2 linked regions of the Homo sapiens genome follow. The protein of the gene in region 1 interacts with the protein of each later gene in a biochemical or structural test. Each region holds a gene or a part of one and is shown in the gene's direction. Other genes may lie near its edges.

The links. The genes of interacting proteins can lie anywhere in the genome.
Region 2: the proteins of YBX1 (region 1) and IRF1 form a complex in vitro, tested with the Homo sapiens proteins (one study listed by BioGRID).

The regions. Positions count from the first base shown.
Region 1 is NC_000001.11:42,695,712-42,699,755, forward strand, and holds part of YBX1 (Y-box-binding protein 1), read left to right. Parts: intron 1-487; coding exon 488-577; intron 578-930; coding exon 931-1,233; intron 1,234-1,468; coding exon 1,469-1,551; intron 1,552-4,044. UniProt on the Homo sapiens protein: DNA- and RNA-binding protein involved in various processes, such as translational repression, RNA stabilization, mRNA splicing, DNA repair and transcription regulation.
Region 2 is NC_000005.10:132,484,170-132,487,773, reverse strand, and holds part of IRF1 (interferon regulatory factor 1), read left to right. Parts: intron 1-643; coding exon 644-820; intron 821-929; coding exon 930-979; intron 980-1,087; coding exon 1,088-1,217; intron 1,218-1,400; coding exon 1,401-1,523; intron 1,524-2,057; coding exon 2,058-2,107; intron 2,108-3,276; coding exon 3,277-3,412; intron 3,413-3,604. UniProt on the Homo sapiens protein: Transcriptional regulator which displays a remarkable functional diversity in the regulation of cellular responses.

The DNA.
Region 1 (4,044 bases):
AGGGATTTTGGTTGACATTTGTAATTGAGTTTGATACGGTAACACAGGGGCAAAGTTGGTTTGGTCAGCTTTGAAGCATGCAAAACCAAACTCGCCTGTCATCTAAACTGACGCAGTGTGGGGCCACCTTCTCCTATTAAGTGCAGTCCTCAGGGGATAGATGGATATCCTCATTTGTTAAAAGTTATATATAATGCTTTTGCAAAAAGCAGTTTTTAAAATGATGTGTCTGTCTTGAGTGTTAAATTACTTGTTTTAGTTTTGTAAATAGTGGTACAATGCTGGGGCCTTGTATGATTGGAGTGTTTTTGTTGAAGTTGGGGATAGTGTGGTCCCCGCTTTCCTAAATTTATTGATGGTTTGGTCTTATTTAAAGCAAATCTTAAGTGTATATCCAAGCTAAAATAATATTGACTCTGGTACATTTTAAATGAAAAAGCACATTATTCTCCCCTGTTAATCTATTTTTGGAATGTGATATTACTAGACTGCCATAAAGAAGAATAACCCCAGGAAGTACCTTCGCAGTGTAGGAGATGGAGAGACTGTGGAGTTTGATGTTGTTGAAGGAGAAAAGGTGAGGATGCTTTTTGTGTAAAGGTTTGACTTCAGTATGGAAATATTTTGGAGGTCTCATCCATTAGGATGGTGGCTCTAATGTGGATGGATGTGTTCAGGTGACCTCATGAACACAGGTGCATCAAGCCTAATGTTCTGGCTGCAGTTAGAGGGCAATCTCTTCAGAACAGTGAGGAACTGATATTTAGTCATTTCTGTGCACCCCTGGTCACGCAGTTGCGCCCCCCCCCCCTTTTTTTTCCTTAACTTTGTTGTTTTTTGCTTTGTTTGAAAATGTTCTGATTTCCTTTTGAAAGTGTTGAAAGTGTTCTGATTTCCTTTGTCACTATCAATATGTAATGGCTTTTGTAGGGTGCGGAGGCAGCAAATGTTACAGGTCCTGGTGGTGTTCCAGTTCAAGGCAGTAAATATGCAGCAGACCGTAACCATTATAGACGCTATCCACGTCGTAGGGGTCCTCCACGCAATTACCAGCAAAATTACCAGAATAGTGAGAGTGGGGAAAAGAACGAGGGATCGGAGAGTGCTCCCGAAGGCCAGGCCCAACAACGCCGGCCCTACCGCAGGCGAAGGTTCCCACCTTACTACATGCGGAGACCCTATGGGCGTCGACCACAGTATTCCAACCCTCCTGTGCAGGGAGAAGTGATGGAGGTAAGTTTCACCATCAACAACAGCAATGTGATAAGTTCTGGTAGGACTGTTTAGAGCTGTTAATTATATGGAAAGCAACTTGGATTCCTAGTAAGAACCAAAAGGATTAATTTATAATGTAGTCACAATTACTAGATGGTCTGTTTTGTTTGTTTTTTAACTCTTGGATTTATCTGGTTGGGTTTTTTTATTATATTACTGACCCAGTAGGCTTAATTTCCATTGTCTTTTTCAGGGTGCTGACAACCAGGGTGCAGGAGAACAAGGTAGACCAGTGAGGCAGAATATGTATCGGGGATATAGACCACGATTCCGCAGGTATGGTCCACGTAAACATGTTTCTATTAAAATTTCCTCAAACCCGTGTTAGGACTCAGCAATATCATGCCTCTCCTGCAGACTCATTTTTCTGTTAACACTTCACGTTTTCTTTCATCAGATGCCTAAGAGGTGAACCTATTAAAAACAGCTTGTATAGATGAGGTCTGCTTTATACATAAATTTTTTTAGAAAATGATGAGGGTTTGGAATTTCAAATTTTCTGTCCTTGAACAGGTAAGATAATATTTTAAACCACACCTTTTAAACCTGCCTCCTTGGTAGGGAGAAAGGAAAGCATTAGGAGTATCTGAATTGTACCATGGCATTAGTGAAGAATCAACAGTGTTATCACTTGAAATGGCATACATTATCTTCCACTAAACACTTCTCAGTTTAGATATGTACCCCCTTTTTTTTGGAGTTGGGAGTTGTCAGCTCAAAGTTGCAAAATGAAATTGCTCCACCAAGAATTTACATTCTGCGGGGGGAAATCCAGTCTGTCGTTAGACAACTATCTACTTGAGTGGGTATTAGAAATCTTATTAATAGATGTCATTATTAGAGTAATCGAGGAAAAATTCCATGAACCAAGCATATTTTAGTCCATGCCGTAGTATACTTTGAGGCAGTGTTCCCAGTCCCACGGTGGTAGGATAGGATGGTGTAATAGTTGTTTCTCTAAGGGTTTGATATCAAAGCATTGAGTTTTCATAGGTGATCCCCAAAAGCTGACAGGTACCTCTGAAGAATCAAACCAATACAGTAATAACGCATCTTAACTGATCACTTAAATCGCAACTTTTAAATCCCCAAATTTTTAAGTGTCAAGTTTATTATTCTAGAAGTATCCAACATATCCAAAATATACTGTGAGTCTATAAGAGGGGGTTTCTGTATATAGGTTTTTAAATTTTACCAAAGTTGGAGCACTTAGTGAAGTTTTAGGAACTAGGGAATCTAGTCGAGGTTGTATTACATGTATTTATCAGCACATGTACATTGAGAGTTTTGCAAGAGCAGCTGATGTCATCATATTTTTTGTATTAATATGTCTTGTCCTGAGTTTTCAGTTAAAAGAGCTGAGGTCCTAACTGATCACTACCACAATTGAAGATCTCTGATTCAGTTTTCTACCAGGAGATTGTGTTAGCCAGATGCTGGATGTTGAAGATAGATGGGTTTTTATTTTTCAGAGTAGGTCTAAAATAGCCTCTCATGGCAGTCCATCTGTTAAGTCCATGGGTTCCAGCAGCAGAATCTTTGGTTTACCTTTTGTTACACTGAAGAGCTTAAATGTTTTGCCTAGTTTCATTGATGTCCTTAAAAATAGCATAATTTTGTGTTTGTATTCAGTGCTTCAGTTCACCGTTGAGTAAATTGTTTGTCTTTATATTGACAAACAAGCTTGCGGTTGATTTGTCTCTTAGAAAGGTATCTTTGTCCATTGTTACCCCTCCAGTGCAGAGGTTTTTGCCTTTTGGTTTAAGTTAGACTTAATGTCTACGTGTTTCAATGTTTAGAATGCTCAGTCCTGCCAGATAGTTGCAGAAGTAACATAAAATTGCTTGGAAGTTATCAATGAATGCTAGACTTTCCAAACTGTGCAGGAATCTTTTGTTCAAATGAGAGTAAATGAAACATGCTGCCCCTAATGCATGGAATGGTGTGAAATTCTGACTGGTGTGGGTTCAAGAGCAAACTGAAAGGGAAATCTTAAGACAGAGTATAGTACAAGTGTTGCTGAAAATGAGACTAATAGTAGTAAGGGGAAAATGGGGGGTCAAAAAGGGAGGTTTTTTGTTGAGAAATAACATTTATAGGCTGAAATGCAATCCAGGATAACAGTTGATGGCAGGAAAGTGACTGCTGGAACTGTTTTCTTTCTCAGAGAGGGTAGGGTTTTGCCCACAGGTGAAAATGTTGACCTTTTGTTAGGAACCTGCCGTTTTCCTGTGTAAGAAACAAGAATACATGGGCACGCATGTGTTAATGGGAAGACATGGAAGCCTTTGGTTGCTAAATTGAGACGAAAGTAAAGAGGAAGTTTGAAAAGTTTGGGGCAAAGAACCCTCTAGAACAGAAAATAGAGATGGTAAATTTATAAGTAATAGGATAACGATCATAAATTAGAAGTGAGTTCACCCAGCTTGACTCTGTGTTTCTAGCCATTTGGGCATCAGGCTCAGGTTGGGCAGAGAGTTGGATTTATCCAGATTTGGTTTATCCAGATCTGGTTTGATTTATCCAGATCTGGTTTATCCAGATGAAGACACTGGGGTAGGGATTGGTCATATGATTAGTGGTAGACTTTATACTTGGATAAAGAGGGGAGAAAAGGGGAAAATGAGGGTTGTTTTTTTTTTTTTAAATTGTTTTGTAGAAATGGAGTTGCACTGTGTTACTCAAGCAGTCTTGAACTCCTGCCCTCAAGTGATCCTCCCCAAGTGCTAGGATTACAGGTGTGAGCCACTGTGCCCAACCTTGGAGTGA
Region 2 (3,604 bases), on another chromosome or scaffold:
TGGAGAAGAGAGTCGATCATCTCAGCAAATTCTCAAAGGGAAAAGCCAAGATCTTAGAAAGTGTGTGGCTTCAGGGGGTTTGTGGCTAGATGAAAGTTCTCCCTGGCAAAAGCATCTGTGAAAAGCAGCTGTAAGCCAGGGCACTGAAAGAGACCCAGGTCTGCCTTTTTCTTCGTGTTGACCAAGGCCCTTGGTCCAAGCCTCATGTGGTTGGTGGCCTCCTTTATCCTTGAGAGATGGAGCTCTAGGCCCATCTCAGAACAGTCAGCCCACCCATTTAGTAACTGTTCTCTGCTGCCCAGTCTGTGCCCACTCTACCCTCTGGCTGCTGATAGCCCAAGGAGGAAGACTGGGCATAGTCTGAGACACAGATAGTACACTTTGGGGATATGGGGACTCTAGTGCTTCTGGCTGGGCCCTTCACTGAGGCCCGCTAGATGTGTTTAAGCCAAGCCTGGGCATTTGAGAAGGCCCAGGGCCTAGGACCTGCAGAGTGTCACCGGGAGTACCTGCTGGTTTGACCACTGTGGCTCTCTGGTAGCATAAGAGGTCAGGGGTACCTTGCCTTCCTCCTTCAGGCCAGGGGCAGCTGAGGATCCCTACCCATGGCCCTGACGATCCTCTTTTTTCTCCTGCCCTCTAGGCCGATACAAAGCAGGGGAAAAGGAGCCAGATCCCAAGACGTGGAAGGCCAACTTTCGCTGTGCCATGAACTCCCTGCCAGATATCGAGGAGGTGAAAGACCAGAGCAGGAACAAGGGCAGCTCAGCTGTGCGAGTGTACCGGATGCTTCCACCTCTCACCAAGAACCAGAGAAAAGGTATCCAAGGACTCTGGGTCCTTGGGAAGCCCTCAGGGAGGGAGGGTAGAAGGAGGTCAGCTGGGGCTGGAGAGCCTGCACCAAGGCTGACAGCCCGTCTGCCCCACAGAAAGAAAGTCGAAGTCCAGCCGAGATGCTAAGAGCAAGGCCAAGAGGAAGGTGAGTGTGGTCCTAAGCAGCCAGGCCTTTGGTCACCTGTGGGCCAGGGTGAGCAGTGGAAGAAATGCTAAGGTGGGCCTGGGCCTAAGCTGCTTTCTCCCTCGACAGTCATGTGGGGATTCCAGCCCTGATACCTTCTCTGATGGACTCAGCAGCTCCACTCTGCCTGATGACCACAGCAGCTACACAGTTCCAGGCTACATGCAGGACTTGGAGGTGGAGCAGGCCCTGACTCCAGGTGAGCTGGTCCAGGTCTGGCAGGAGACCCCACAGGTCAGTGGGATGACTCTTTCTCTTGGAGGCATGGTGCTGGCACATGGTGGCCCATTAGTGCAGGCTGCAGGGTTGGTCGGAGGGCGCTCGATGTCTTGCAAACTAAGAAAGCACACAACCTTGACCTGTGGCTTCTGCTGTTCCCCAGCACTGTCGCCATGTGCTGTCAGCAGCACTCTCCCCGACTGGCACATCCCAGTGGAAGTTGTGCCGGACAGCACCAGTGATCTGTACAACTTCCAGGTGTCACCCATGCCCTCCACCTCTGAAGGTTGGTGCTCCTGGGGCCTGGCCTGCCTGCTTGACTGTCTGGGTCCTGTGAAGGGCTTCCTGAGAGAGAAAAGATGATCAGAACTCCACCTGGCACTGAATTGATTGAGTTGGGCATTGCCCAGTCTTAGCCACCATAGGGGGAGGCAAGCGACGGGGACACTAGGAAGGCAGTTCAGAGTGGGCTGCAGTACAGTGGGGGCTGGTGAGAGGAGGGAAGGGGGCCAGGGGCTGCATTTTGGGGTGCTGGTTCTCCTTCCTCCTCTGTAGCCCAGCATCTGAGGGTGAGGAAGGAAGTAGGGTAGGGGTGGGAAGCGGCGTGGCTTCAGGGTTTGAGAGGCTGAGTCACCAGGCCAGGGTCCTGTTCTGGAATCTCTATGGCAGATAGGTCCACCGGGAGGGTGTGTGTGTGTGTGTGTGTGTCAGAGAGACAGAGAGACAGAGAAAGGGCAGGGGGATCTGGTGGGCTGGAACTGGAACTGCAGGGTGAGTGTGGCTGACTGCCAGCCAACCTCTCTGCTTTCCCCATCCACAGCTACAACAGATGAGGATGAGGAAGGGAAATTACCTGAGGACATCATGAAGGTAAAGCCCCTTCCTACCTGGGCACTCTTGAAGTGACCGTTTCTCAGTGAGGAGAGAGAACCAGTGAAGCTTCCAAATCAGAGGATGGGTAGCTGCTGTTGTCACCTGGCTGCTTGCATTGTCCCACAAGTGCCACATTCACGTGGCTTGACTGGTGGGAAAGCCACCATGGGAAGGGAAGGCAGGTGGGAGGCCTGGCCTCTGACAGGCCGTCCTGAAGCAAGCCTTGGGGCATCAGACAGCTCTGTGAGTCAGGCACTATCAGCGATGGGTCCCTGGCCTGCATCCTCTGCCCCAACATGCCCCAGCCCTGCTAGTTCGGGAAATGCACATCAGGCTTCAATAATCAGCCTTTAGGATCCGTTAATATGATGATGGCTTTATAGAAAAAGTTAGCAAATTATCCTCCAGGTTTTTTTTTCTGCTTCAGTTTTGAAAGTGAATATAGTTTTTGCAGCCGGGGGCAGTGGCTCATGCCTGTAATCCCAGCACTTTGGAAGGCGAAGGTGGGTGGATCACCTGAGGTCAGGAGTTTGAGACCAGCCTGACTAACATGGTGAAACCCATCTCTACCAAAAATATAAAAATTAGCTGGGCCTGGTGGCGCATGCCTGTAATCCCAGCTACTCTGAAGGCTGAGGCAGGAGAATCGCTTGAACCTGAGAGGCGGAGGTTGCAGTGAGCTGAGATTGTGTCATTGCACTCCAGCCTGGGCAACAAGAGCAAAACTCCATTTCAAAAAAAAGTTTTTGCAGTAGTTGTACGCCAGCTGTTCCATTAGCCCAAAAAATTGAGACATGGATGTCGTTCCTTATCTCTAGCTTTTCTAGTCATCTTTTCTTGATTTATTATGCTAACCTTTGTTTTAAGCCACATTCCCTCTTACTATGTCCTTACACAGTTGAGAGGGAAGTCGTGGAGATGCTATACCAGAGAGTGGGTGTGAGAGGGGTGGGAAAATGAATTGAGGACCAGTGCCAACATGCATTTCTGCCTCCTCCCTCCCGGGCCCTTGTCCTGACTGCAGTGCACTTCTGCATCCTATCTGAGATTGTGAAAATGGCCAAGGGTGTGATACTGGCTGAGAGGAGCTGGCTCATTGAGGGCAGGGCCACAGGGTGAGTCTGCACTGGAAGGGAGTTGATAGCCTCTTGCTCTTCTGTCCCCAGCTCTTGGAGCAGTCGGAGTGGCAGCCAACAAACGTGGATGGGAAGGGGTACCTACTCAATGAACCTGGAGTCCAGCCCACCTCTGTCTATGGAGACTTTAGCTGTAAGGAGGAGCCAGAAATTGACAGCCCAGGGGGTAAGAAGGCCCTGGATCCTTATGGCTTCTTAGATGAGGGAGAACCACGTAGGGATGGAGAAAGCTTGGGGGCAGGGCCAGGGAGCAGGGCGGTAAAGCATCTGGGGTACTGACACATTGTGAATTAGCTACGGCTGCCATGCCTTAAGGTTTGCCTGAAGCTGAGTGGATGTTTACTGCTGTGCTGGGAAG